Linked DNA regions of Homo sapiens: region 1 is linked to region 2. Evidence: fine-mapped expression QTL. A gene starts in region 2. The other region holds a variant in brackets. All regions are shown on one strand. Distances are between the middles of the regions. Region 1 holds the start of LOC124903391. Region 2 holds the start of BAG5 (BAG cochaperone 5).

What was found.
Region 1: its variant is fine-mapped to the expression of BAG5 in lymphoblastoid cells (GENCORD, PIP 0.95).

What each region holds. Positions count from the first base shown.
Region 1 is chr14:103,207,852-103,223,325 of GRCh38, forward strand. LOC124903391 reads right to left here and starts at 1,019. Exons shown (of 2, transcript XM_047432044.1): 1 at 1-1,019. The coding sequence starts at 166. The variant C/T (reference allele first, on the strand shown) is at 8,390.
Region 2 is chr14:103,553,739-103,569,212 of GRCh38, forward strand. It overlaps BAG5 (BAG cochaperone 5), which reads right to left and starts at 8,919. Exons shown (of 2, transcript NM_001015048.3): 1 at 8,878-8,919; 2 at 2,813-7,454. The coding sequence starts at 7,426. The coding sequence ends at 6,083. It overlaps COA8 (cytochrome c oxidase assembly factor 8), which reads left to right and starts at 9,222. Exons shown (of 5, transcript NM_001370595.2): 1 at 9,222-9,386. The coding sequence starts at 9,264. It also overlaps the pseudogene RNU4-68P. RefSeq lists enhancers at 7,524-8,037, 8,137-8,186 and a silencer at 8,527-9,176.

The DNA of each region.
Region 1 (15,474 bases), 350 kb before region 2:
GGCGCGGGCCCGCGAGGGGCCCTGCCCGTTCCCGGGGGTCACGGCCAAGATCCAGCGGAGGATGGACCAGGTGTTCACGCTGGCGGTGCGCGAGACGGAGGCCCTGATCCCGCCCGAGGTGCCTCCCCGCCAATGCCCAGCACACGAGGCTGTCGGAAAGGTTCATTGGCTAATTTGCCACAGTTGGTTTTCAATATGTCCATCCCTTTTCCTGATTTCCAGAGCTCAGTATTTCTACCCAGTGCCTATTTATTTATTTATTTATTTATTGAGACAGAGTCTCACTCTGTCGCCCAGGCTGGAGTGCAGTGGCGCAGTGTCGGCTCACTGCAACCTCTGCCTCCCGGGTTCAAGCGATTCTCCTGCCTCAGCCTCCCGAGTAGCTGGGATTACAGGCGCCTGCTACCAGACGCAGCTGATTTTTGTATTTTAAGTACAGCTGGGGTTTCATCATGTTGGTCAGGCTGGTCTCAAACTCCTGACCTCGTGATCCGCCCGCCTCAGCCTCCTAAAGTGCTGGGATTACAGGCGTGAGCCACCTTGTCCGGCCCTGAAGCTTATAGTTTTTAATATTCTATAATTCCTGAAGTTTTCATAGTCTGCCTCTTTGCTTCTTATTTTTCAGGAAACAAGTTAGTAACTGAGGGGAAAAGCACCACGATCTCCCGGTGCGTTGTTTGCAAGAGTGCTTCAGCAGTCAGTGTCTTTCTTGTTGTTTGCCAGATAAAGATATTTTGTCTGCATATCTGCATAGCTTAACAGTAACTCAGGTGCTGACGTAGAAGTAAAGCATGTGAGAATGCTTTTGGATCATACACTTTTCACATAATAACAAATTTTTCTCGAATTGGTTTAACAGTATCGTTTTATGCTTTTTAAAATGTATCTTTGATATGAGTTGTTTGTCATTTGCACAAGTTAATGATTTTACCTCCCCAGCTGCAACATATTTTTCAAATTTAGGAACCCAACTTAACCATCTGAACATCCTTCTTAAAAAAAATAAAGAAGAAAGCTCACAACTATGCCTGTGATCTGAACTAGTTGATTTTGTTAACGGAATGTTATTTATATAGTGATGGTTAGAGAAGGCTCTGGTCATTTCTATTTATATTGTATGTGATGTTTTACTAGAAAAACAAGTTTTACCTTAACATGAAAAAAATACATTTTAGAACCTAATGGCAAGTTCACCTCCGAAGAGGGCTAGGCGGGGACTGTACCCTGGGTTTTATCTCTTCCTCTCCCTCCTAGGACAGGTTGGGGGTTGGGATGCTTACTTTTGAAGCTGGAAACCCGGCTGACTCACTCCCCTCCTGACCTCTGTCTTCTGGGGTCCCTCCTGGCAAAGCCCTTATTCATCTCTCTAAGGGGGCATATCAAATGTGGGGAGGGGCCAGTGATGGGTGGGGAGCATCTTCCTGGTCTCAGCTGTCGTTGTCCAGAGCTGCCCCCTCCTCCTGCTGGAGCAGAGGAGAAACACAAGTTTGTTCACTGTCTGGATTGGGCTGTGCAGAGAAAGCCCAGGGAGAAGAAACAGCCTCCTGTTCCCACCACCACGACAGCAGAGAGCTGGGCCCCCATGACTGCAAGCTGGGAATTCCCTTAGCCCCCACCCCAACAGTCCTGCCCTTCTGACTCTCCACCTGCTTGTGCTGAGGAGGGCCTCTGGAGAGGTTTTGTGTCCTTGGATCCCAGTCCTTCTGGATATCAGGCCTCGATCCAAGAAAACATTCCCAAATAGCCGTTTCTGCCCTTAGATTCCCTGGAGGAACTCAGACACTCCCACTCAGATTCAAGTTTTCAGCTTAGAGTGCAGTGGGTTTCTGGCTGACTAGTCAATGTCAGGGATGGCCAGAGCCACATGGCCAGCTCCTGTGACCTTGCTTTCTGAGTGAGCATGGACGCACACAGGCACACATGAAATTAAAGCCCTACATGCTGGATTGTCCTGCTTTTCCTGTGTGTCAAATTTCTAGACTTTGTATGTCACACACACATTGTCTCAGTCCCTCCAGAGGCAAGGAAGGCTGCAAGAACTCCAAAGTGAACTTGCCAGCATCGAATACAACCACCTGTCAGAGCGCTCGGGGACCTGGAGGCCCCATTCACAGCCGATGGACCTGTGGAGCAGGGGCAGGCTGACTTGTGAGCTTGCGGGTGGGCAAACCTCAAGCCCTCCGCTGTTCTCTCCTCCTGGCTGTGGGCTCTGTCTGCTCAGCACCACCAAGGAACGCCAGGCCAGGAATGAAAGTCAAGGAGGCTGCGACATTAATGACCCACAGTACGGGTGAGTCTTCTGCCTCTCCCAGTTATCCACAGACTTCTGACCAATGTATTTGGTTTCTATTTGTATTATTCAGATTGCTGCTGATACTGAGAACTCATGGGGAGGGTTTAAAATTACATGTGTTTTCCTTTTCTGTGAAATGTATGCTCCTTTTGCCAGCTTTGAAAATTTTGTGAACCACATTAACAACCCGTCTATAAAATAACGGGGGAAAAGGAGAGAAAGAAGATAGTTTCTATGTGTACACATCCACATAACAAGGAAGAAACTGCTCATGGCTGCTACAGTCCTTGTCTCTGAAACTGATCATGAGGCCATGGTTGATTTTTATCACTTATTTATTTATTTATTTTTGAGACAGAGTCTCGCTGTGTCACCCAGGCTGGAAGGGTGCGATCTCGACTCCCTGCAATCTCCACCTCCAGGGTTCAAGCGATTCTGGTGCCTCAGCCTCCCAAGTAGCTGGGATTACAGGCGTGCGTCACCATGCCTGGCTAATTTTTGTATTTTTAGTAGAGACGGGGTTTTGCCATGTTGGCCAGGCTGGTCTTGAACTCCTCCTGACCTCAAGTGATCTACCTACCTTGACCTCCCAAAGTGCTGGGATTACAGGCATGAGCCACCACACCCGGCCCATAGTTGATTTTTTTTTTTTTTTTTTTTTTTGAGACGGAATCTCGTTCTGTCACCCAGGCTGGAGTGCAGTGGCACCATCTCAGCTCACTGCAAGCTCCGCCTCCCAGGTTCACGCCATTCTCCTGCCTCAGCCTCCCCAGTAGCTGGGACTACAGGCGCCCACCACCATGCCCGGCTAATTTTTTTGTATTTTTAGTAGAGACAGGGTTTCACTGTGTTAGCCAGGATGGTCTCGATCTCCTGACCTGGTGTTCCACCCTCCTCAGCCTCCCAAAGTGCTGGAATTACAGGCGTGAGCCACCGTGCCCGGCCCATAGTTGATTATTAAATTGTGTAGTATAAGCACACATAACATAAAACTTACCATCTTAATCTTTTTTTTTTTTTTTGAGATGGAGCCTGGCTCTGTCGTCCAGGCTGGAGTGCAATGGCACGAGCTCGGCTCACTGCAACCTCTGCCTCCCGGGTTCAAGCAATTCTCCCTGCCTCGGTCTCCCGAGTAGCTGGGATTACAGGCATCCGCCACCACGCCCAGCTAATTTTTGTATTTTTTAGTACAGATGGGGTTTCGCCATGTTGGCCAGGCTGGTCTTGAACTCCTGACTTCAGGTGATCCGCCCGCTTCAGCCTCCCAAAGTGCTGGGATTACAGGTGTGAGCCACCGCACCCGGCCACATTGTTCTTTTTCAAGGTTACTTTGGCTACTCGAGGTCCCTTGAGAGTCCATATGAATTCTAGGATGGATTTTCTATTTCTGCAAAAACTGCCATTGGGCTCTTTGATAAGAATTGCCTTGAATCTGTAGATTGCTTTGGGTAGTATTGACATCTTAACAATATTAAGCATTTCAATCCATGAACATGAGATGTCTTTCATTTATTTGTGTCTTCCTTAGTTTCTTTCAGCAATGTTTCATAATTTCCAGTGTACAAGTCTTTTGCCTCTTGGTTAAGTTTATTCTTAGGTATTTTATTATATTCAATGCTATTGTAAATAGAATTGTTTTCTTAATTTCCTTTTCAGGTTGTTCATTGTTAGTGTATAGAAATGCAACTGATCAGCTGGGCACGGTGGCTCACGCCTGTAATCCCAGCACTTTGGGAGGCCGAGGTGGGTGGATCACCTGAGGTCAGGAGTTTGAGACCAGGCTGGCCAACATGGTGAAACCCCATCTCTACTAAAAATACAAAAATTAGCCAGGTGTGGTGGTGGACGCCTGTAATCCCAGCTACTCCAGAGGCTGAGGCAGGAGAATTGCTTGAACCCAGGAGACAGAGGTTGCAGTGAGCTGAGATTGCCCCACTGCACTCCAGCCTGGGTGACAGAGCGAGACTCCATCTCAAAAAAAAAAAAAATCTGATTTTTGTGTGTTGATTTTTGTATTCTGCAACTTTTCTGGATTTATTAGTTCTAACAGGATTTTTTGGTAGCGTCTTTAGGGTTTTGTACATATAAGATCATGTCATCTGTGAACAGAGATAATTTTACTCCTTCCTTTCTGATGTGGACACTTTTTATTTCTTTTTCTTGACTAATTGCTGTGGTTATTATTTTCAATATATGTTGAACACAAGTGGCAAGAATGACTGAGGATCTTTGTCCTGATCCTAAGCTTAGAAGAAAAACTTTGTCTTTCACCATTGAGTATGATTGTTAACTATGGACTTTTCGTATATGGACTCCATTATGTTGAGGTAGTTGCATTCTAGTCCTATCTTGTTAAATGTTTTTATCATGAAAGGGTATGATTTTTTTTCAAATGCATTTTTCTGCATCAATTGAGATGATCATGTTTCTTTTCCCTTCATTCAGGTAATGTGGGGCATTATATTGGTTGATTTTCTTATGTCGAACCATTCTTGCATTTCAGGAATAATCCCACTTGGTCATGATGTATGATCCTTTGAATGGGCCGTTGAATTGTTTGCTAGTATTTGATTTTTAGATTTTTCTTCTTTCATTCCATGTTTTCTTTGCCCTCAGCCAGGCCCTGGTTGGTTGGGGTTCTTCATCTAGTAGTATGACCCAAATGTTCATTCATGAAAGATCTGAACTTTCAGTAGGGTTCTGCCATTTTTTTGTTGGCGTTGTTTGTGATAACCTTTTACTGTTGGAATGGGAGTACCAGGAGGTGCCTCAAACAACGTACTGAGTCACTAAGTATAATAGTGAAACAAACCAATTCCCCTCTATCACCCCTTAACTCCCAAACTCCTATATTCTGGCTGTGGGAAAAACACCACCATATATTAATCACTGAATAAAGATTATATCAAAACCGTAAGATGGGGGCCTATCCATTCAGGGTGGTATCTCCCAACTGGTGCTAAGATAAGTCTTTGGTAGCCCATCCAACCATTCTATCAGGCCAGCTGCTCTTGGGTGATTGAACAAAAAGCAGGATCATTGAATTCCATGGCCATGAGCCTAATGCTTCACCTCTTTTGCAATGAAATCAATTCCTTGATCAAAGAAATGTTTTATGGGATATGATGAAGGTCCACAGGGCATTCTATAATTCTGTGGATGGTGGTGCTGGCAAAAGCATTACACGTAGAGACAGCAAATCTATATCCAGAATAAATTCCAGTGAGGACAAATTGCTTTTCCTTCCGTGATGGAAGGGATCTAATGTAATCAAGTTTCCACCAAGTGGCTAATTATTCTCCCAGGAAATGATGCCATATATCAGGGTCTCTGTTATTGGTTAAATATTCAACAGTGAAGATAACCAGGTCGGACTTGTGAGGCAAAGTCCATGCTGAGGCCATGCACAGCCTCTTCCCTGCCTCCTTGGTCACTCTGTACACAGGCCCATTGAGCAACCATTCTGATGGCTGGGGAAAGAGGCTGACTGCAATGCACAGAAAAGACTGTCTTGCCCACCTGATTATTGACAGCCCCCTCTAGAAGATGCTTTTGGATGAGCATTCACATGTGACAAGGTACCCTCAAAGTCTGCCTATCCAGAGAGGTCCGTCCTTTCCCAGACCACCTCAATACCAATCTCCCAACCTGATTTCTTCCAAGTCTCTGATGATCTAGCCAAACCATTAGCCTCTATACTAGTCCATAAGCCAGTATAGAGCCATACTTCTGGCCATCTTCCAGTCCAGGCAAAGTATAACAAACAAATGCGGCACATGAAGTAATGACATGACAACTGAGAGGACTCTCCTTTACCACTGTTCTTTTTTTTTTTTTTTTTTTTTTTGAGACAGAGTCTCGCTCTGTTGCCCAGGCTGGAGTACAGTGGTGCAGTCTCAGCTCACTGCAACCTCTGCCTCCCGGGTTCAAGTGATTCTCCTGCCTCAGCCTCCCGAGTAGTTGGGACTATAGGCACATGCCACTATGCCTAGCTAATTTTTGTATTTTTAGTAGAGACGGGGTTTCACCTTGTTGGCCAGGCTGGTTTCGAACTCCTGACCTCAGGTGATCTGCCTGCCTCGGCCTCACAAAGTGCTGGGATTACAGGCATGCGCCACTGCACCTGGCCACCACTCTTCTTTAGGGCCACCCTGAGTGGGACTGGAGTGCTGTAGCCACCTACTTCTGGACCATCTCTAAGCCAGGATGAGATTTTCCCCCCTCAATCAACTGGTCATAAAGACCTCCCTGTGTGGACATCAGTTTGGGTTGTAGGAGAGGAGACAGTGCAGAGTGGGGAGGGGGAGACGCTGTCTATCAGTGCATTTTGACAACTGCATTCGCTACATGGTCTACCGTCAAAGCCGCTGAAGACAAGAGTTTGGTCACATGTTTTCCTGTGGCAGTGCAGGGCTCACCAGCCTCCCAGCCTGCAGAGATAGCTTCTTGCTGCCGCTGACATCTGGGAGCTGGCCTGGCATCTACATTTAGGCCACGGTGTTCTCCTGCTGAACATAAATAATTTCACAGAACGTCAACATCAGACATGGCCACTCTGTGACTATGACGGATGAAGATAAAATAAGAGCATTCTGCAGTCATGTCGAAACATAGATGGAAATACCAACACTGTCCAAACCACGTCAAATCATCGAACCTTGGCCAACAGGAGTGATGACTGCTTCTTTACCAATGACAACTTCAGCTTCTCTCTAGTCTGCCTTCCTTCCAGATAAGATTTATTATGATAGGCCGGGTGCAGTGGCTCACACTTGTAATCCCAGCACTTTGGGAGGCCGAGACGGGCAGATCGTCTGAGGTCAGGAGTTTGAGACCAGCCTGGCCAATGTGGTGATACCCCGCCATTTCTACTAAAAATACAAAAATTAGCCAGATGTGGTGGTGCATGCCTGTAATCCCAGCTACTCAGGAGGCTGAGGCAGGAGAATCTCTTGAACCCAGGGGGCAGAGGTTGCAGTGAGCTGAGATCACACCATTGCACTCCAGCCTGGGCGACAAGAGTGAAACTCCGTCTCAAAAAAATAAAAATAAAAAAAGATATATTATGATAGTCAATCATGTAACCTCCTGCTTCCTAAGCATCTAATCCAGTGCAATCCCTGTTTCCTCGAGCTTCCTTCACTTCATGCAAGCCCAAAGCGAAGCCCTTTATTTTTTTAATTTTTGTGGGTACATAGTAGGTGTATGTATTTATGGGGCATATGGGATCTTTTGATACGGGCATACACTGTATAATAATATCAGGTAAGTAGGGTGCCCGTCACCTCAGCATTTATCCTTTGTTTGTGGGCCCCCCAAGGTGCCTGCGGTTCCCTCATGTTGTTGCAAATGACAGGATCTCATTCTTTTCTGTGCCTGAATCGTGCTCCATTGTGTACATGCACCACATTTTCTTGATCCATTCATCTGCTGATGGACGCTTAGGTTGCCTCCAAATCTTGGCTATTGTGAACAGTGCTGCAGTAAACGTGGGCGTGCAGACATCTCTTTGATACACTGACTCCTTGCTTTTGGGTATATACCCAGCCGTGGGACTGCTGTATCATATGGTAGCTCCATTTTTAGTTTTTTGGGGAACCTCCGAACTGTTCTCCATAGTGGCTGTACTAATTTACGTTCCCACCCACGGTGTACGAGGATTCCCTTTTCTCCCCATCCTCGCCAGCATTCGTTATTGCCTGTCTTTTGAATAGAAGCCATTTTAACTGGGGTGAGATGATATCTCACTGTCATTTTGACCAAATCTAAGCCCTTTCTAACACCTTTTTACTGAGACACCCTGTGGCTCCCTGTGGTGGGTGCTCTCCCTCCCTGTGATGAGCGGTGAATTGATCTTGTTCAACCTGGAGGTCTGTAGCTGCAGGTGCTGGCCCGGCCCCAGCCTGCTGCCTGGTGCTGAGGCCGCTTCTTTCTGGAAGCCAATGCTGTGGCAGTCGGGGTGCAGGAGGCAGAACCCCTGCAGGGAATTTAAGCAGGGCCGATTTACCAGATGTAACCGGGACTTACAAAGCTACCGGAAGGGTTGGAGGAGTCGGTTCTGGGCCTAGCCTCTGAGCATAACTTCCAGAATCAATT[C/T]GTTAAGCCGGTCCCAACTCCAGAGGGGACTGTAGGCAATGTGGGGGGACTGCATGCAAAGGATACAGACATATATATACACACATATGTACACTCACACATCTATGGGGTAAAGTGGCAGCCATGACAGTCCCTTCACCTGACTTGTCTAGAAATGCTCAGCTTCTGAGGCAGTGACCCTAGAGGGACAGAGTGCATCTGGGAGAAATGTGGAAGGGTCAGCTGAGTCCAGTGGGCTCACATGGAGAAAGATCAGGATCTGTGACTTCAGGGAAACGGGACGGGGTTCGGGGGCTAGGGGAGGTGGGCCTGGGTCCCGTGAGCACAGGTGGGTCCAGGGGTGGGTGTGGGAGGAGGCGGGCTGTGGAGGAATAGCTCACGCAGGGAGTTGGTGCATTTTCCCCAGTCGAGGTCTGACATACTGAGAGGCCGAGACCCAGGCCAGCAAGGGAGCCCGGGACACTGCCGGTCCCATGGGAATCCCCAGCCTTTTCCCTGACAGCCCAATGCCCTGTCAGAGAACAGCAGGGCAGGGGACAGCTTTGGGACAAAGATTCACTATTGAGGCGTGGATGTGTCTCCACCCCCCACCCCCTCCCCTCTCCGACAGCAGCAGGCCTGGAGCCTCCAGGGCCACTTGGGAAGGCAGGACTACAGGGAGAGGTGAGAAAATCAGCTTTTTTCCCCTCACACACCCCTTCTGGCACTGAAGAAGGTCGTCACTGGAGGTGTAAGGTGACACCACCATGCAGGAGAGGGGAGGCCTTCACCCAGGTTGCAGTGCAAAGGTGCAATCACAGCTCGCTGAAGCCTCAAGCTCCTGGGCTCAGGCGGTCCTCCCACCTCAGCCTCCTGAGTAGATGGGACTACAGGTGCTCACTACCGTGCCTGGGTAATTTTTTTTTTTTTTTTTAGTTTTTGTAAAGGTGGGAGTCTTGCTGTCTTAGCCAAGCTGGTCTCGAACTCCTGGCCTCAAGTGATTCTCCAGCCTCAGCCTCCCAAAATGCTGGGATTATAGGTGTGAGCCACTGCGACTGGCCTGCGCTGCACTTTTGAAAGCTCCAAAGGCTTACAGGTGTAAACGTTGAGGTTTGTGGTAGACAGTCTGCAGAAATGACCACCAGCTATTCCCCCTGCACACAAAAGCTGCAGCTCCCATAAGGAGGTGAGTCTATTTCCCGTCCCTTAGAATCGGACCTGGCTGTTGACTTCCTTTGAATAATAGAATGCGATATTGTGTCAGCTCCAAGCCAAACCTTTAAAAGGACTGACAGTCTCCTCTTTTGTCCTCTTGCAACTCATCCACCACATAAATAAGCTCAAAGCTAGACTCCTGGATGACAAGAGAGGATGCAAAGAGAAAGAGAGAGTTTCCTAGCCCCAAGCTAATCCAGCCATCCCTGATGAGGCAGCAGCTGTGTGAGTGAACGCATGGATATTCCATCCCCAGCTGGGCTCCTAGCTGAATGTAGGGCATGTGTGGCCTAAGCCAAAACCATGTAAACCAGAAGAACCATCCAGCTAAGCCCAGCCAACACTCAGATTCATAAGAAATAATAAATCTTTTAAATTTAAGACTGCTAAGCCTTGGGTTCATTATATAGCAACAAATAATCAATACAGAGTCCACAGCTCACCAAGATTAGGAATCCAGGTAAAACATCTGCTGCTGTGGGCTGGGATCTCAAAAGTTGCATCCTGGAAGTGAAGGTAAACTAAGTAAATCAGCCTTCAGAGAGACTGAAACCCACTTTTAGGGAGATTTTTCAGGAAAATCTCAAGCCCTGAAATTAGATTAAGGTGCTCTTTTATTGTTAGTGCTTCCAGGCATCTGGATGAAACCATTGAAATTCTTCTGGAGGAAGAGAATAACCCAAGTTTCAAGTTATTTCTACAGAGGATTTATCTAGTATATAATAAAAGATAAACAGGTCCATACTGAATAAGATTTAAAAAAAAAAAAAATCCAAGCAACAACAAAACCAAACAGATAACAACAGACCCATAGAGACCCAAGATACTGGTTTAATAAGACACAACAGCTTTAAAACTGCTATGCTTAATTGATAAATGAACTGTAGATTAAACACAGGTGAAGAGAAATATCAATGAACTGAGAGATATAAGATACATTATTCAGAACAGACCAAAAAAGTAATAAATAGAGAAGAGGGAGAAGAGACAAAGGTAGGGGAGTCTCACATAGGTGGAATTTGAGGCCCCCAGAAGGACAGAAACTGGACCAGAGCAAAACATTTGAAAAGCAAATGGCTGCAAATTTTTAAAAATGAATGTGGCCGGGCACACTGGCTCACGCTTATAATCCCAGCACTTTGGGAGGCTGAGGTGGGTGGATCACTTGAGGTCGGGAGTTCAAGACCAGCCTTGCCAACCTGGTGAATCCCCACCTCTACTAAAAATACAAAAATTAGCCAGGTATGGTGGCGCGTGCCTGTAATCCCAGCTACTCGGGAGGCTGAAGCAGGAGAATCACTTGAACCCGGGAGCTGGAGGCTACAGTGAGCCGAGATGGCACCACTGCACTCCAGCCTAGGTGACAGGGCCAGACTCTAATAAATAAATAAATAAAAAATAAGGGCCAAATAAAGACACTTGCAGCACAAAGGAGTTTGTCACTAACATTTACACTAAAGCAAATTGTAAAGGAGGTGTTTTAAGCAAAAGGAATCAGGAACTGACATGGATTTCTGTCTGTCTTGCTGGGGCTGCAGCTGCTCCTGAATTTCCCTTCTTCATTACCTGCCCCCGTGGACATTCCACTCCAGCATCAGAGACGGAGACTCTTGCTTGAGTTCCACTTAGTAGACACGACCCGGACAAAGCAGTTGCAGTGTCTCAGGGAGCCCACTGGACGCAGCTGACCCTTCCACATTTCTCCCAGATGCAGTCTCTGTCCCTCTAGGGTCACTGCCTCAGGAGCTGAGCATTTCTAGACAAGTCAGGTGAAGAGACAGTCATGGCTGCCACTTTACACCATAGATGCGTGAGTGTACATATGTGTGTATATATATGTCCGTATCCTCAACGAGGGCCAAAGTATCCAGTTTTTTTCTTTTTTTTTTTTTTTGAGACAGGGACCTTGCTTTCTCACCCAGGCTAGAGTGCAGTGGCACAATTATGGCTCACAAGAGCCCCAACCTCCTGGGCTTAAGCGATCCTCCTGTCTCAGCCTCCCTAGTAACTGGGACTACAGGTGTGCACCAGCAGGAGCTGATTGTGTGTGTGTGTGTGTGTGTGTGTGTGTGTGTGTGTGTGTGTGTGTGTGTAGAGGTAGGGTCTCACTATGTTCTCCAGGCTGGTCTCAAACTCCTGGGTTCAAACAATCCTCCCTCCTTGGCTTCCCCAAGTGCTGGGATTACAGGCCTGAGCCACTTCACCCAACTACAGTATCCAGTGTCTAAGTTTGTTCTTAAATGAGCTATGTGCTGGAGGGAAAAAGAGGAGCTTTGTCTACTCTAAACCAGATCGTAGAGGTCTTTTGTTTGTCGCCCTTGGGGTTTTTCACCAAGATGCCCTGGGCCTTTGGGATGAGCCGGATGGGCCTTTCCCGGACAGGCGGAGGAAGAAAGTTCAAGGTGAGCAGTGGGAGAAACTGCAGGCCCCCTGCTCCCAGGGGAAGGGGAGGTGGCCTTCAGGGGAGAGTCCATATGGGCGCCCAGAAACTGGAAACTGCGTCCCTGAAGGCTGCAAGCCCTCTGGACAGACAGGGTCACCCCCGAGTGAAGAGGGGCTTTGAAGACACATGGAAAAGGTGGTGAGTGGGGACTGAGTTGAAACCCAGGCCCTAAGTGGAAGAGCCTGCAGTTCCTAGGGTGCCTTCCTTCTTCCAGTCAATTCATCAATCAATCCACACCAAGTCAGTGCCTACCCCAGGGCAGACACTTGCGAGGCCCGAGGTCAGGAGGCCACAGGAGCCCCTTCCCCAACCTGAAGCCCTGGAGATGGCCTGGCTGGAGGGGACGACGGCCCGCAGCGGGGACCCGACTCACTTCTTCGTCCCCACCTGCCCTGGGGTCCGAAGGGAGCCGCGTGGGAAGCGGGGACGGGGAGCGTGTGGAGGGACCCCCGCGCTCCCGGGCCGACCCTCTGCGGCCTCTGCTCTGCGCAGTCCGTCCTCTTCTCCCGACCTGGCGTGCGTCTCCTGTTCCCCGGCCCCCCATCCCATGGGACCGTCCTTCCTAACGGCACTTCACCCCGCCCGGCCCACGAGGTGGTCCCGGGCCGGTGACAAGATCTGGACGTGGCGACTCCGGGAAGGGGCGACCGGGCGCGGAGAGCCCCTGGGACCCAGGCCTCAGGGACGCATCGGGGTCGGAGCTGGGCCCGGGGGCGGGGCTGGGGTGGGGAGGCTGAGGTTCCTTCGCCCCTTCCCTCCCCTCGCCCCCCGCAGCCTCGCGGCGCGTTTCCTGCCCCGCCCGCCAGGAGGGAGTGGCCCCCGCCAAGTCCCGCGCGTCTCTGCCAAGACCCCGTGCGGGTCCGTGCCGGTCGCGCTATCCAGGCGCCCGCCCAGGCTTGGGGAGCTCTGCGCGCGGGAGCCGGCGACTCCTCGGGGCACCAGGGCGTGGCGAGGGCGTCGGCCTCGGCGGGGAGGCCTTGGCTGGGCCGTCGGGGTGGCGCCGTGCCCTGGAGGTCGTGGCTGGAAGCGAGGCCGCGGGGGTCCAGGAGCGCTCATCGGGGCGCCAGATGCAGCCTGCGGGACGTCCAGTGCCCGCGCAGGGGCCGGGCGAGGCCGTGGCCTCCAGGCAACGCGCAGCCGCGTTGGCGCGAGTTTTAAATCGGTGCCTTCCCAGCTTTGCAAGTTCTTATCAATCGTTACATGCAAGAGGTAGTTTTTAAAAAATGGTTCCCCAGCTTTATTGCGGTGTAATTGATGGATATAAATTGTATTTATTAAGGGTGTACAGCTGGACGATGGGATGGAGCACACAGGGTGGAGGGGTTACCACAGTCCTGTTTCCGTCGTGGTTTTACTTAAATTCAGCGTTACCTATGTGGTGTCCCTGGACACTCCCAGCAGCGAGAGTCCTGGTGGATGGCATCTCTTTCCCTTCTAACCATGGCCGGGGCCCTGGGTGACGTCCCTTCTAACCATGGCCGGGGCCCTGGGTGACGTCCCTTCTAACTAGGTCCGGGGCCCTGGGTGATGTCCCTTCTAACTAGGTCCGGGGCCCTGGGTGATGTCCCTTCTGACCACGGACGGGGGCCTGGGTGATGTCTCTTCTAACCATGGCCAGGGGCCTGGGCGATGTCCCTTTGGGCTTCGTTTGCATTTCCCTGCTGACTGAAGACGGCTTTTGTGCAGGTCCTATTTTTTTCTGTCTTTCCGTGTGGAAATTGTGAAGACCACCCAAATGAGGACCACGGGCCTCTTAATTCAGGGCCTGTGGAGCAGCGGCCTGGGCCCCTCCCTTGGGTGTGGCAGAGGCCAGCAGGCGGGCAGGTGGGAGGGCTTTAGAAGGGAAACCGGGAGGCTCAGGCAGGCTCCGATAGAGGTGGGGGGCTGGGTGAGGGGCCTCCCAGGTGCTGTGCTTGGGGAACTTGGTCTGCTTTCCTGGTTTGTGTAATTTGGTCCCACCGAGGCAGGCCACAGACTGGGGGGGTGTCATCCTTGCCCAAGCCCTGACCACCCCGCAGTAGCAGCTGGAAGGGTGTGCTGGGAGACTCCGGTCTCCAGCTCTGGCTGTTGTCCCTTTCTAGACTCAGCCTCTCCTTTGTGTCTCTAGAGGCGGGAATTTTTGCTATTTTTCCATGTGTTTCATTGAGCCACAGTCACCTGTTTTGACATTGTCCCTGAATGTGACCAGCAGAGCCTTGGAGTGAATTCTGGCTCCCTCTAACCTGCCCTCCTGAGTCTCCGGGCACCGCCCCGGCTTCTGGGCAACGCAGCAGCCCCAGCTCCTTTGTGACTTTCCCCCAAGACCGTGCAGCGGGAAGGGTCTTCGGAAACCAGCCACTGCAGGCGGCTGTGCTTGGCATACCCGAGGGCTTGAGGCTTCTAGGCCATGCAGTGGACAGAGTTGGAAAGTACAGACTTGTTTTGGTATGTCAGTGTTAGGTTTTCATTAGGAATGGCATTATAAACTTTTTTTTTAATATGTAGAGGCAGGCCAGGTGCAGTGGCTCAGGCCTGTAACTTCAGCACATTGGGAGCCTGAGGCAGGAGGATAGATTGAGCCCAGGAGTCTGAGACCAGCCTGAGCAACATAGAGAGACCCCGTCTCTGCAAAAAATAAACTTAGCCCAGTGTGGTGATGCATGCCTGTAGTCCCAGCTACTTGGGAGGCTGAGGTGGGGCAGGAGGGATGTGGGGGAATCCCTTGAGCCTAGGAGGTTGAGTGTCAAGGCCACAGTGAGTTGTGACCACTGCACTTCAGCCTGGGCCACAGGAGGAGTCCCTGTGTCCAAAAGAAAAAGAAAAGAAAAGAAAAGAAAAGAAATGGGGTTCTTGCTATGTTACCCAGGCTGGGCTGGAGGAATCCTCCCACCTCGGACTCCCAAAGTGCTGGGACTATAGGTGTGATCCTCGCCTGACCGAAATCTAACATTTTTACTTCTTTCATAGTTCTATTACCTTATTTGCTGACAACTTCGAGTCGTAGTATTTTTGTCTATCTTATATCCCTGAGTTTCAGATTTGTGTCAAAATTATTAAATCAACTCTGAAATGACCTTTATAATTTGCAGTTCTTTGTGCCTTGGAATATATCTAAGAATGGTTAGAACAGCAAATGTTATAGACAGGTAAATAGAACAACAGAAGAGGGTAGATAGAAGATGCCACCACTGGTCCCGTTATTTCCCACAGTATTAGAGCTCCTTGCAAAAACTGTGGTGTAGGGATTGAAGCGGGAGGGAAAAAAAATCCCATTTTTTTGGAAGATAATCTTACAGACCGAAAAAACAAAACCCACCGGACAAACCTTTAGAGAGAACAGTTCATCTTTTTCCTTTACTAGGCTGAGCAGCAGCTTGCCCCTGCCAATCTAGAAACTTCCATCCTTCAAGAATGGGAAATCTCAGGCTGGGCCCGGTGGCTCATGCCTGTAATCCAAACACTTTGGGAG
Region 2 (15,474 bases):
CTTGGCCAGCATTCCCTGAGGTGGGAGCTTTCAGAAATCCTGATGTCCAGACTGTACCCTATCCCGATGAAACCAGAATCGCTGGGGTGGGCCCCAAGCACCAGCCATTTCTTCAACTCTCCAGGTAAGTCCATGACTCATGAACTGTAACCAAATTGTCCTTCCCTCCTTTGCCAAGTGACTCTGGGCAGTTCCCTGGGCAAGGGACCACCTGAATCTCAGAATCACCTATGAAACAGATAGTATGAAAAACCTGCCTCAAGGGGTGCTGAGAGCTTAAAATGTACATAGAACATTTTGCACAGATGGCTGGGCAGTGGAGATGGGGCTGCTGGGGCAGCCTGGACCACACCACTCAGGGCCTCGCAGGGACGTGGCTGGGTGAAATAGTGGAGGCCACTGAAGGTTTTCATTCAGAAAAGCCATATGAGCAGAGCCGTGCTTTTAGAAAGACCAAGAGGGCAAATAGGTGAAATAGCCTGAAATAGCCTGCTGGTGACTGGCATAAAAAAAGGGCACAAGCTGAAGAGACCTAGAACTAGGGACACAGAGTCCTAAGGCTGCCTGGTGACCCCCACCCCCACCCCAAAATCTGTGCAATGATAACTACACAAAATGGAAAAGCAAGGCCAAGTGCAGTAGCTCATGTCTGTCATCCCAGCACTTTGGGAGGCTGAGGCAGGAGGATCGCTTGAGCCCAGGAGTTCGAGACCAGCCTGGGCAACATATTAAGACCCTGTTTCAATAAAAAAACAAAAGAACCCAAAACATTTTGTAAGATGCCCTCAGACATGTCCTGACCAGCAGGGGCGACCCCAGACCTGCATATAAGAGGCCTTCAATTAGGGCTCAGCTTGTACCCAGAATCAAGAGCCAAGCTTGCCAGGGCACTGCCCCTCAGCCCCTGCCACCTCGTTCCAGCTCAGCCCACTCCAGGGTTTCTTCTTTAAAAAAAAAAAATTATATTGATTTTTTTGTAGAGATGGGGTCTGTGTTGCCCAGGCTGGTCTTGAACTCCTGGGCTCAAGCAGTCCTCTCACCTTAGCCTCCCAAAGTGCCATGATTCCCGGTGCCACACCCACCGTCTCCTGTCCTACTTCTAACCAGCCTTGAAGGGCCAGTGAGACCCCTCCCTAAGCCACTGGTCTTTTTCCGGCTTGCACTTGACACCTGACCTGACACCAGACATTCACACCTGAGACAGACCAGGCGCAGCTGACTCCCCTCATCCCTTCTCTGACTAAACTGGAATTTCTCCATGGCCACTGGTGGCATGATGGATTCTTCAATCCTCAGCGCAACACGAGGATACACTAGGAGCCTGGTTAATGCTGTTGCCAGTATAAGTGATAAGAATCCTCACGTGTGGCCAAGGATTTATTCAAAAGCTCACATTTCCCCCAGAGTGTTTCTCTTCAACCTATACACATCGTTGTTCTTGGCTCTGGGCCTATCATGCGTTTGCAAGGCTTGCAAAGGCTGCCCCTGTTTGGATCACCTGGAAGATAAAAGCAGGCAGAGAAGACAACAAAAATACAATGGAAGGCCGGGCGCGGTGGCTCACGCCTGTAATCCCAGCACTTTGGGAAGCTGAGGCAGGTGGATCACGAGGTCAGGAGATCAAGACCACAGTGAAACCCCGTCTCTACTAAAAATACAAAAAATTAGCCGGGCATGGTGGCGGGCGCCTGTAGTCCCAGCTACTCGGGAGGCTGAGGCAGGAGAATGGCGTGAACCCGGGAGGCGGAGCTTGCAGTGAGCCGAGATCGCGCCACTGCACTCCAGCCTGGGTGACAGAGAGAGACTCCGCCTCAAACAAACAAACAAACAAAACGCTCCCCCCAAAAAAACAAAAAACAAAAAACAAAACAAAAAATACAATAGGAAAGGGCTAAAAATAGGAAAACTTATTGCTGTCACATAGCGGACTTAAAATAGACAAACAACTGCCCGAAGTGAGCCAGGCACGTCTGCAGTCCAAGCACACGGGCTTCACTAGACTTAGGGCTGGGAGAGGGCCGGAGGCCGGAGTCAGAACACCTCACACAGCCGGGAAGGGCCGAATAGACAGAAAGACTCCCACACCTCCGTCACAAAGCAGTGAAGACGGTTTCATAGCACACTATCACAACTCTCCTCTGGAGAGTGGATCTTTCAAGAACTGTCTCAGAGGTTCTTCTTTCTAAAAATAAAGTCAATTCTTATTTGAGACCCAGGCATCCTCCTGAGGGAGCAGAGCATGAGGCCCCCACCCCCATCACACACATACTTCCTAGGCTGTCTCAACAAGAGCACAGTGACCTGGTCACCTGGGCCTGGGTCCTGGCCCACACACAACCACCCTCACCTCCTTACAGCATGGCCACCAACTGCAGCCAAGGAGGCCACCTGCCCCCAGGCCTGCCTGCTGTGGGCTCCATTAAGGAAGGACTCCTCAGCTGGGCACGGTGGCTCACACCTGTGTCCCAACACTTTGGGAGGCTGAGGCGGGTGGATCACCTGAGGTCAGGAGTTCGAGACCATCCTGGCCAACATGGTGAAACCCTGTCTCTACTAAAAATACAAAAAATTAGCCAGGCGTTGTGGCAGGCACCTGTAATCCCAGCTACTCGGGAGGTTGAGGCAGGAGAATTGCTTGAACCTGGGAGGCGGAGGTTGCAGTGAGCCGAGATCGCGCTATTGCACTCCAGCCTGGGTGACAGAGCCAGACTCCGTCTCAAAAAAAAAAAAAAAAAGGGCTCCGCACCCAGGTCAGACAGTTCATGAAGGTGATAATATATAGAGAACACACACCTCAGACTCACAGCCTTTCTCCACTGCAAGCGTAAGAGACTGGTTTTATTTCAAGAATAACTAAGGGTATATTAACACATGTATCTCAAAGTAACATTGAATTATTGAAGACATACTGTTCCAATACTCAAACAGTTCACAGAGAGGGGACAGGAACCAATGTACTGGAAAAACACACTTGTATTATATGTAAAAATCGATGGCCAATATTTCTCTTATTAAGAGAAAAATACCCAACAAATTAAAAGGTGAAAAGCTGTGCTCAAAAAAAAAATAAAAAAACCCAAAACCTTGCATGCACAAGCTAAGCTCAGACCCTTAAAAACCAGATAGAAATTGACAAAGTCAAACAAAGGAGAAAAACTAGCTGAACTTCTCAAACTAAATTATATCAAATATATGTGCATTTTAGCAAAATAAACCACTAAACTATACTTTGTAGACATATTCATTACATTTATTTTAATAACTACTTCATTATAGGCTGACTGGCTTTCCTGTGTGGATAAAGTGTGATCTGAAAGCAACGCTGACTGAATGTAAATAAAGCAAACGTTCCCAGCCATTTTTGGCATGAACATGGACTACAGCGTTTAATGCAGACCCAAAGCCACACATTTTTGGGGAGTAGGTTTTACTTGCAGTACAGATTCTTTTCATTACAGATCACAAAAATACAATACAATGTGACAAGCCCAGTTTAAGAATTACATGCAGTAGCTCATATTAACACAAACAGCTCCCCACGAAGGCCGACAAGAGCTAAATCCGGTGTCAACAGGGTTCATTGCAGGAGTAGAATAATCCGGTACAAGGAACGAGAACAGATTGAAACCAGAAACAAAGCCATGCCTGACAGTCAATCAAGGTCAATCTGATCATTTCCATGACCAATTACCCATGTGAACAATTCAAAATGACGGTGGAAGAGCTGAGCACCCTGTACTCACACACGATGCCCACAGCTTGGCAAAAGGTACACAAACACTTGTTTGAAAAGAATGACTGAAACGTCTACTTTCAAAGAACAATGGACACTTTTAAAGGGAATGCTGACATTTAACTTTACAAAATGAAATTTAAAATGTAAGTAGTACTCTGGGGAAGAATATGCCTGAAGCGTAACCATGATTTCCCAGTGGTATAATTAAACAGAGCTCTAATTTAAAAACTCTTCCTGGGCTGGGCGCCGTGGCTCACACCCGTTAATCCCAGCACTTTGGGGGGCCGAGGCGGGCGGATCACGAGGTCAGGAGTTCGAGACCAGCCTGACCATCATGGTGAAATCTCAACTCTATTAAAAATACAAAAATTAGCCAGGCATGGTGCCACATGCCTGTACTCCCAGCTACTCAGGTGGCTGAGGCAGGAGAATCGCTTGAACCTGGGAGGTGGAGGTTGCAGTGAGCTGAGATGGCACCACTGCACTGCAGCCTGGGCAACAGAGACTCCATCTCAAAAATAAATAAAAAATAAAAACTCTTCCTCAAGATTTTAAGAGCATTCTAAAATTATGATACAGAAAAGCAATCCTACAACTACTGTGGCCAAAACGTGGATTCCAATGACCTGCCTTGAGCCCGCGGTTGCCAGGAGTTGGACCTGCAGTAGTATGGGAAGCTCACGGCCTAAATACCGACTGCCCTCTGACCCCACCGTCCAGCGATTCTAGAACATTTCTAGTAGGAAAGACATAGCAAGGGATTTTCATGATTGGGAAATACTGAGAGACAAGCTGAAGATTTGTTAAGGGCTATGCTTCTGTCATCTTTTAGGTATTTAAGGCTACTCCTTTAGCTAGCTACTTTGAGCTGTTTAAAGTGACTATCTCCCTACACAGAGTTACACAATGAGCATCTCTGAAAGAGAATATTACCCTGGATTTCCAAAGATGTACTCTAACAGGATGACCAGGCAAAAGGTGACCCGGGGGAGGAGTCTGTTATAACACTCGGACCCACATGTTCTCAAGGCACTTCAGAACTTTGGGAAATCATTTTGTACCGGATCCTCAGAAAGCATTTATGGAAATACACATCCTTTAGAAGAGAGATGCTTCACGCACGACTGACTTTAATGGCTCTTTCAGGCAACAGAGAAACCACCACATGCCCATGACATGAGCTCAGTTGTTCAGCAGGCACCCAGAGGAAGCCTTTAATTCCGAGCAGGTTTCACTGATTGGTCCTGGAGCAGGTGTAGTTATGACATTTACTAAGTGAGTGGTTAACAGCTGACTGCCTAGAAAACCTAGGAAGGCCTGGTCCCTCTGGGTTACTGACAGCGTCTACCCTCACGTTGTAAAACAGCACCGGGGAGGTGTGACAAGGCTGTCCATTTTACAGCCTTGGACAACAGAAGAGAACCATTATGTGCTACATTCAGACTTTCTGATTTAGTTTTAGTATAACCTGACATTGGTAACCCGTCTCCAGTATTCATCCTCCAACTACAGGTATGAGTGTTTCCTTTTTTTTTTTTTAAAGGCCCATTAACTTAATTTAAATGTTCCCATCCTTATGAATTTACTCACTAAGGAAAACTATAAGCTCAGATTTTACAAACAAAAGCAACTTACAAGGTATTATTGCTGGTCCTTTATCCCTTCTCTTTAATGCAATCTCAAAGGTTTTTTGGCTATTAGTTTTCATAATTTTCTTATGTTGCACACAAAAACAAGATTCCTCTCTAAAACGTAGAGGATGGGGAAAATGCAGATGCTGTTTTTCCAACTAAAAATGTTTACAAAAGAACAGACTGTCTGAACAAACAAAAAAACCCCACCCCGTTAAGCTGGGTAGGACCAATCAGGCCTTATAAGTGAAAAAAAAGCCTTCTATCGAGCATAATGAAACAGAACATGTACTGCTTGTGTTTGAACCTTACTCTTATTTAACCAAAAATTTCCCCTTTCTCATAATTTTCCTAGTATTATGTAAGGTTATGCCTAGTTCTAGATTCTGAAAGACCTGCATTTTAATGCTTGCACAACCCATTTAAAATCTACAAAAGCTGCCTCTATTTTGTTTTCTGATTAAAAACGCAAAAAAAAGGACAAACCAAACAAACCACACCACATCATACAGATAATGATCCGAATGGAAAAGTTAACGTGCTGTAATGATATTTGTCTTGCAACATCAAAAGCAGCAGATACTGAATAGAATTTGCTTCAATCATAAATACTGAGACTGAAATATGCACGTATAAATCAATGAACTGAAAGCTCTCTATACATAGAAGCACATATGAAGTGCAAAACAGTATCAAAAGTGAGATCTCTGGTATTTCAGTACTCCCATTCATCAGATTTCAGGTCGAGATAGCTGAGAATATTCTGCGCAAGCCTCACAGCTTGTTTCCTGGCAGCCTTACACTTCTCTTCTCCCTGCGGATCAACAGCATCCAGGGCTAGCAGCTGCTTGGTGAGCAGCTCTTCCAGCCGGATGTAGTTCTTATCGGTTCGATTTCCATCAAATGAAAGAACTTCTCCCTGGATCTCAGACAAGTTTCCAAGGACGTTCCAGACGGCTTTATGGGATGGGTGCTCCTCACAAGCAAACAGCTTTCTTTTCTCAAGGGCCTCCTTCAAGTCAATATATGTGATCAGAGTTTGCACCTCGATCACTGCTCTTCTCCTGGCTTCCCGGATGCAGGGGTTTTTTTCAAGACTTACCTCATCCAACTGTCCAATTAAACCCTGCAATTCTGTTTTGGAGCTCAGGTACAATTCAGAAGGGTTTTGTGCTTGGAGAAGTTCATTTTTTATTTCTCTCATTCTCTTGAGGACCTTTTCTATTTTTAAAATGGAATGATTCTGTCTCAGGTCAAATGCTTTAGTTGTGTCTGCTTCCTCTTCCAAATCCAGATATTTCAATAATTTGTTGATATCTTCTACTACCTCCCTCCGATAATTTCTGATTTCTGTCCGGCCGCACACATCTAGAGCATCCAGGTCAGCGATCAGCCCCGAGAGCACACAGGATAAGTGCCTGCAGGTCTCATTGTTGTTCACACCCATCAGAAGTGCAATCAGGACCCCTCGGGCCTTGTTCACCTCACACATCACGAAGTTGATTTTGGCAACGGAAGGATGTGCATCCTCGGAAAGCGGCAGGGAAGGCTGCTTTTTCATGCAGTCTTCGATTATCTCTTGCACCGCACAGATTTTGGTTAAAGTGTGATACCTTGCTTTCCGCAAGGAGATTTTTCCTCCAGTTTTAACATGTGTCAGCCTCAGAATGATATCTTGGATGCCTTCTTCAAACTCATCAGTTACGCAGTTGCCTCCATTATAAAATGGCACAATTTTCTCTCTCACGAGGGACTGGGCTTCCTCAAAAATGTTCTGTATTTCAATCCGGTGTGGGTGGTTTGCATTCTGCTCCAACTCTTTGAGAAGACGTTCTGTCTCCTGTGCTGCCCGCTTCCTAGCTTGCTGAATATCTCCTTTTCCTTCAGTATCTACAGAGTCTATTTCAAAAAGCTGTTTTGTTAGAATCCTCTCCAGTTTCTTGTAATTCTTGTCATCTGACAGACCACTGAAGCCGATAACTTGCTGTTCTACACTTTTTACTTCCTTTTGGATTTCCTGAAGCCTACTAATAGAAGGATGTTGGTTTCCCATATCCATACTTTTGTTGTGTTCAGTTTCACAAGCACTAAAAGACGACAAGAATGATAACTTACTACAGCACAAGGCTTCTGCAGAACACTAATGGTATATTAAGTCATTCTAAAATTCTCATTTTAAAAAGGTATACTTCTGAGCAGTCATCCCACCTCAGCCTCCCCAGTAGCTGGGTCTACAGTCGTACACCACTACGCCCAGCTAATGTTATTTTTAGTAGAGACAGGTCTCACTATATTGCCCAGGCTGGTCTCAGACGATCCGCCCGCCTCCGCCTCCCAAAGTGCTGGGATTAAGGTGTGAGTCACCGTACGCGACACAAACTATTTGGAACCAGCAGGGCACCTTTATGAAAGGTGAAACAGTAGCTCTTGTAACCTTCCGAACACTAACAGTACCCCGCCCCGCCACACAGCTATGCCTAGTTTCCAGAAACTCTAAGCAAAAGAAAGAACCAGAACAAAAACCAGTGGCTCTCAGACATCCCCAAGGTCCCCGCTTCTTCGTTTCTCTCCATCCCTTTGTGCACTTCCCCTCCCCACCCTTTTAGCTCCTCACACATCTTCCCTCACAGAAGTCTCCCTGAAGAGATTAAAACCCCACAGGTAAAGAAGAGCGACCGGGACAGCGCTGAAGGGCACCACCTTGGGCTTTCGAGGCCCAACACCTCCTCAGCCCCCAACATGCTCCACTCTCTCAAAAAAAAACAACCCGCGAAAACGTGGTAACTATGAATAATTCATTCACTCGCCTCCCACTGGGAGTCCACAATGGCCTAATGCACGTTTCAAGCTCTTGGTTTCTATCAAACGGCTCGCTCAAGGTGGGTAACCAATGGAAACGCATAATCTATCCCCGGCGGATGTCCTGGAGGCCACGGAGGGAAGGCGGCCCGAGCTGCTTCCTCCCCGCCTCGCCCTTCCCTCTTGGCCCTTTACCCAAAAGAAGTCTGAATTGGATGCGGTCTTGGCGTCCCGTGGCTGAGGTGGCGAGGTGGAAGATCAGCCCTTTACGGGGTGCGGCACCGGAGCTGGGCCCCCAGCTGCATGCCTCGCACCCCTCCCGACTAGGTCTGAGCGGGGCAGCCGGTGAAGGGGCCGCTACTGGCTGCAGCAGCCGCTCCGGGCGTCTTGGCCCGGGTGCCAGGGCGCGCCTGCAGGACGTGACCTCACAATGGGCGCGCGAGGGGAGCTCGGCCCGGCCGGGGGAAGCCGGGGGAGGAGGGGAACCGAGGCCCGGCCGGAGACACCAGAGACCAGGCCCGGCCAGCCCCGGTCGCTTCCGACCCCAGGGGCGGGGACAGCGCCGAGACCGACTCTGCCCTGCCTGATCCGACAGGCCGCACGGGGCTGGGCGCTGGCGAAGGGGTGGCCCAGCGGGGAGCCCCGCGCGGAGGTGGTGCCCCACTCGTCCCCCCGAGAGAGGGAAAAGGCTACAAGCCGCGCTTCGCTCACCTGTCCCGCCCGCGCCATCGCGCGATGCGTCGCCGACGCTTCCACGACTTCCGCAGCTCCGGCAGTCGCCCGGGCCCGGCAGCCCCGCCCCTGGCCGAACACCCCTAAACCCGGGGACACCTCCTCCGGCGTCCGCGCCTAGCCGCCGGCAGCGCCACGCCCACCGCCAGCGGCGCAGCGAGGCAGCCTGGAGTGACCGCGACCAAGGAGCGGCCGCCCGGGTCAGCCCGCGCCGCCCGCCGCCCCCTCACCCCGTCGCACCGCTGGGAAAGCGCACGGTCGGCCGCGCCGCCGCGCTTCCTCGGGCTTCGCGACCCTGCCGTAAAGCGGCCCCTCGCGCCGTCGCAATGCTGCCGTGCGCCGCGGGAGCCAGGGGGCGTGGGGCCATGGTGGTCTTGCGGGCGGGGAAGAAGACCTTTCTCCCCCCTCTCTGCCGCGCCTTCGCCTGCCGCGGCTGTCAACTCGCTCCGGAGCGCGGCGCCGAGCGCAGGGATACGGCGCCCAGCGGGGTAAGCAGGGGCCTGGGGACATTGGGCCGGGAGGGGTGACCGGAAGGGAAGACAAACCCGGGCCTCGGGGCCACTCCCTGTTCTGCACAGCCGCCTCAGGCCTTTGTCCAGGTGCTCTCGCGTCCTATCCCGAACAGTCCCGCAGCCCCGAGGCTCCCGCATCAACGCCCTCAGTCGGATGGGACTGAGGGTGCCGCCGCCACCACGCCGGGGACTGTTGACAGCCAGAACCTTTAAGCGTAACAGAGTCACCTGGCAAGTTTGTACCTACCTTATTTGTTCCCGAGAATGATTATTTTTTATTTTTAAAGAGCTCTTGGCTTACCGTGCGTTTTTTTTCGTTGTGTGTGTGTGTGTTTTGGCTTTGTTACAATTATTAGTGCTTTTCTTCAAGCGGCGAGCACTTTATCATCGTACTTTTGTAGCACTTCACGTTGAATAGTTGTTATTTGCAAACTATGTGTGGGTATATGCATGTTACTGGCCAAAGATCCGCAAAGAATGTCTGTAGCAAGAATGTCTGTGGCAAGCAATTTTTATAAGTGGTACTTTTGGGAGGGATGTTTTGTTTAAGGGAGGCCTAGGCCTTGATTCCGTCTGTCAGATGAAAATGTTGACTAACGGTGTGGAATGGGCTGGAGATAAAATATTCAAGCAAAGCATGCAAATACCAAACAGGCTAATGAAGGAGGCTGGAAAACTTGGTTTAAACAATAATTAAAGAAGTATTAAAAAAGTGTTAATTAAAAATTGGACGGGCTCCGTGGCTCACGCTTGTAATCCCAGCACTTTGGGAGGCCGAGGCAAGCGGATCACGAAATCAAGAGGTGAGACCATCCTGCCCAACATGGTGAAACGTCTCTGCTAAAAATACAGAAATTAGCTGGGCATAGTGGCGCGCGCCTGTAGACCCAGCTACTCGGGAGGATGAGGCAGGAAAATCGCTTGAACCCGGGAGACGGAGGTTGCTGTGAGTCGAGATCGCGCCACTGCACTCCAGCCTGGCGACAGAGGGAGACTTCATCTCAAAAAAAAAAAAGCTAATTAAAAATTGCAAATGTACTTGCTTGTACATTTTCATTTCTGTTGGGCTGTGGCTGTTAGTACACTTTCATAATTGTAGCTTTGAAGGTCTATCTAGTTTACAATTTAAACAAGGAGTTACCAGGGCAACTTGCCAACCAGACACCCAAGTGGCTAGCTCAGTTCTGTGTTACAGTGACCAAGTCCTTGCCTTCTATCCCTAGAACATAGAAACCCACCCAGCATCTCTATCTTTGGGCAGAAAGATAGAGCAGGTGTCTGAAAATGCTCTAAGAGAGCAAACGGGAAATCAACCAAGACATTTCCCGGGCGGGGGGGATTTTCCCTAGCTTATTTTGTGAACTTGTGCTGGAAAGAAACAACAGCACCCAAATAAGGATTTCTCTATTGTCATATACACTTCTTTTTTTTTTTTTTTTTTTTTTTTTTGAGTTGGAGTCTCCCTCTGTCGCCCAGGTGGGAGTACAGTGGCGTGATCTCAGCTCACTGCAACCTCTGCCTCCCGGGCTCAAGCGATTCTCGTGCCTCAGCCTTCCGAGTAGCTGGGACTACAGGGGCCCACCACCATGCCCGGCTAATTTTTTTGTATTTTTAGTAGAGACAGGGTTTCACCTGTTGGCCAGGCTGGTTTCAAACTCCTGACCTCAAGTGATGCGCCTGCCTGGGCCTCCCAAAGTGCTAGGATTACAAGTGTGAGCCACCACTCTCAGCCTTAGACTTCTTGTTAAAGTAAAATAAATCTTACCATGGGTCTGTTCTCAAGATGAGAGACCTCTCTGCCTTGTTCGTTTTTTCTTTTTTCGAGATGGAGTTTTTGCTCTGTTGCCCAGGCTGGAGTGCAATGGCGCAGTCTCGGCTCACTGCAACCTTTGCCTACTGGGTTCAAGCAATTCTCCTGCCGCAGCCTCCTGAGTATAGCTGGGATCACAGGCGCATGCTGCCACGCCTGGTTAATTTTTTTTTCTTTTTTTAGTAGAGATGGGGTTTCACTATGCTGGCCAGGCAGGTCTCGAACTCCTGACTTCAGGTGATCCACCCGCCTTGGCCTCCCAAAGTGCTGAGATTATAAGTGTGAGCCACCATGCCCAGCCAGCACCAGCTTTTAATTGAAAAATATTATAGAACTTAAGAGTCAGGCACCATTCTTCCTTCCAAATCCATCTTTAAAACTCAGCTTTTCAGAAATATAACTGCTTTTGGTAAAGAAAAAAAAATTAAGACTTTTAAATTCTGTTCCCTAGCCACTTCATGCCTGCTTATGTCTTACCTATGTAGTTTGCATCATTGGTTCCTAAACTTGTTTGCACGTAAGAATTAGTCTGACTCTTTTAGTTCTTTTTTTTTCTTTAATCCGGAAGTTCCTGAACCAGAATAGGTTCAGAGATACTCCCTTTTAGTTCTTTTTAATCCATAGGTTCTGCCTCCATCACCTCCCCACCTTTTTTTTTAATTTTTTTTTTTTTTTGAGATGGAGTCTTGCTCTGTCACCCAGGCTGGAGTGCAGTGGCGTGATCTCAGCTCACTGCAACCTCCACCGCCCGGGTTCAAGCAATTCTCCTGCCTCAGCCTCCTGAGTAGCTGGGATTACAGGTGCCTACCACCATGCCCGGCTAATTTTTGTATTTTTTGTAGAGACGGGTTTCACCATGTTGGCCAGGGTGGTCTTGAACTCCTGACCTCAGGTGATCTGCTCACCTCAGCCTCCCAAAGTGCTGGGATTACAGGTATGAGCCACTGTGCCTGGCCCAAAGTCACTTTTAGCTTCAAAAATGAGCTGTAGGGTATGCCTTCTTTTCCTGTTTCCGTGGATTGTTTACTAAGGTTTGAATTTTTCTGTGACTGGTAGAACCTACAAGTCATTTGAACCTGAGTTTTCATAAGAACAAGCCATTTTAACCCCATCTTCTTTTTGGTTAGAGTTTAACCCCATCTTCTTTCTGGTTAGAGTTACTAAACTGGTAAATAAGAGTGATCCGGCCAGGCATGGTGGCTCACACCTTGCCAGCACTTTGGGAGACTGAGGCAGGCAGATCACCTGAGGTCAGGAGTTCAAGACCAGCCCGGCCAACATGGTGAAATCCTGTCTCTACAAAAATACAAAAATTAGCCGGGCATGATGGTGGTACCTGTAATCCCAGCTAGTTGGGAGGCTGAGGCGGGAGAATCGCTTGAACCCAGGAGGCAGAGGTTGCAGTGAGCCGAGATCGCGCCATTGCACTCCAGCCTGGGCGATGGACCAAGACTCATTCTCAAAAAGAAAAAAAAGAGTGAGCCATTGCATATTGATTTAAACAAGACATCTGATAAAGTCTCATGTATTTTTGAAAACCGTGTCCTGTATTGTGGTGCTTAAAACACCAATGGAAACATTTGTCTCAGGGTGGTTGGCATTTCCTGCACAGGTTCTTCATGAGGTGCCAGAGATACAGAAATGAATGTGTGTGCCTCTTTTCACACATGCACAGATGGCTCTCCAGGCAGGAGCTCTGCATGCTAACACATGCCTCCCTGGTGCCTAGAGCAGTGCTTGGCCTTTGCATGGTGGTGCAGGGGCAGGCAGGTTGATGCTTATGGAGAATGGCTGAATCCACCATGTCCATCTTTGGAATCTATCAGAAGTTTATTGTTTGCAGCTCCAGGCAGGGTCTCCTGAGGATGCAAGGGAGCACCACCCTGGGCCTGCCTGTTGGGCACCTAACTTCTGAGAGGAGGAGGGTTGGAACAAGTCCACAAATAACCATATTTTTCCCTTTTTTGGACATAGGGTCTTGCTCTGTTGCCCAGGCTGGAGTGCAGTGGCACAAACATAGCTCACCACAGCCTCAACCTCACTGGCTCAAGTAATCTTCCTGCCTCAGCCTCTTTAGTAGCTGGGGCTACAGGCATGTGCCACCGCACCTGGCTGATTTTTAAAATTTTTTTGGCAGGGCGCGGTGGCTCGTGCCTGTAATCTCAGCACGTTGGAAGGCCGAGGCAGGTGGATCATCTGAGGTCAGGAATTCAAGACCAGCCTGGCCAACGTGGTGAAACACCGTCTCTACTGAAAATACAAAAATTAGCCGGGCGTGGTGGCGCATGCCTGTAATCCCAGCTACTCGGGAGGCTGAGGCAGGAGAATTGCTTGAACCTGGTAGGCGGAGGCTGCAGTGAGCCAAGATCGCGCCACTGCACTCCAGCCTGGGCAACAATGCGAGACTCTTTCTCAAAAAAAAAAAAAAAAAAAAATTTTTTTTTGTAGCTTTGCACAGCGGCAGTATTGTAGCCAATGAGATTTATCTGAGGTGTGATTATTGATAATTGAAAACTTTTCCCAATACCCTGCCGTGATGACTTGCAATATAGTCAGCACTGGCAATTTTTGACAGTCTCTACAGAGACTGAAAACAAAAATTTTTTTTATAGAGATGGGGTCTCACTTTGTTGCCCAGGCTGGCCTCAAACTCCTGAGCTCAAGCAGTCCACCTACCTCGGCTTCCCAAGGTGCTGGGATTACAAGTGTAAACCACCAAGCCCAGCCCACAAATCATCTTTAGACAAATTGTCTAATCATCTTTAGACAATACTGAGGTGCAGGCCTTGTGTCTGTTGGTGGTGGGAAAGAGATGGTTGACTAGGGCCTTAAAGATAATAAAAATAATTAACGTATGTATACAGCAGGGGTGGCTTCCTGCTGTGGTCACTCCAGCGTTGGGTGAAAGTGTTCCAGCCTGGATAGCTCTCCCATCTCGTTGGCATTCCTGAAATTAGGAGACTGTTTTCATTGACTTTCTAGTGTTTGCCCTTCTGGTGGATTATCCTTCTTTTATATTGCTGGATCGGGTTTGCGGATTTGTCTAGCATCCATGTAGAATAGGGGGCTGGGGACCCTAACCCTCAGTAAATATGAAGTTCCTGACTCCTTCTCAGATGGGAACTCAAAGCCTTTATAGAACTGAGAGTTAGAACAGGAAGCAAGAACGCTAAGAGCTTGCTAACATTTTTCTCTTCATTATTCCCTGGTGGTTTCCCCATGGTAGCTTTGTGTCATGTACGGGCACTTCCAGGAATAGGGTGCAGGAGAAACGTCTCAGTGTCTCCCCTTCCGAATCTTGGCTTCTGGAGGGAGAGATGCTGGGGTGGGAGTGCTCCTTGGTGGAGTACTCAGGAGCTTAGTAAAAGCAGAGGGGGCTGGAGAGGCAGGCCTGGCCTGCAGAGCCAGCATGGAGAAGCCTGGTGTAGGGCTCTCCAGCCTGCCAATTTACAGTTAAGAAGAAAGGAGATATGTATATATATATATACACACACATACATACATACATACACACACACATATATACACACATATATATACACACATGTATACATATATATACACACACATACACATATACACACACATGTACACATATACACACATATATACGTGTGTGTGTATATATATATATATGTATACGTATATATATATGTGTGTGTGTATATATATATATATATATATATATAGTGACAGGGTCTCACTCTGTCACCCAGGTTGGAGTGCAGTGACACGATCTTGGTTCACTGCAACCTCCGCCTCCCAGGTTCAAGCAATTCTTGTGCCTCAGCCTCCCAAGTAGCTGGGATTACAGGTGCACACCACCACGCCCAGCTTATTTTTTGGTATTTTAAGTAGAGGCGGGGTTTCACCATGTTGGCCAGGCTGGTCTCGAACTCCTGACCTCAAATGATCCACCTGCTTCGGCTTCCCAAAGTGCTGGGATGACAGGCGTGAGCCACCGCGCCCGGCTGAAAAAAGATTTTCACAAGAACCGGAAGGTTAACTCCCCTCCCAGACCCAAAGATGCAGATTCGGCCTGACCAGTAGGAATGCACATGTGCCTCTCTGTGACAAGGGCAGAACTGAGGCTGCTTCTCAGGAGACTGTGAGGGTCTAGCGTGCCCTCCCCGCAGACATGAGGGCCGGATGGAAGAGCCTTCTGTCCCCAGCATAGCCAATGGGACACCATGAATCATAGGCTTGTACTGTGGAAACTAGCAATTATGGTAATTATTCGCACTACAAAGGGCT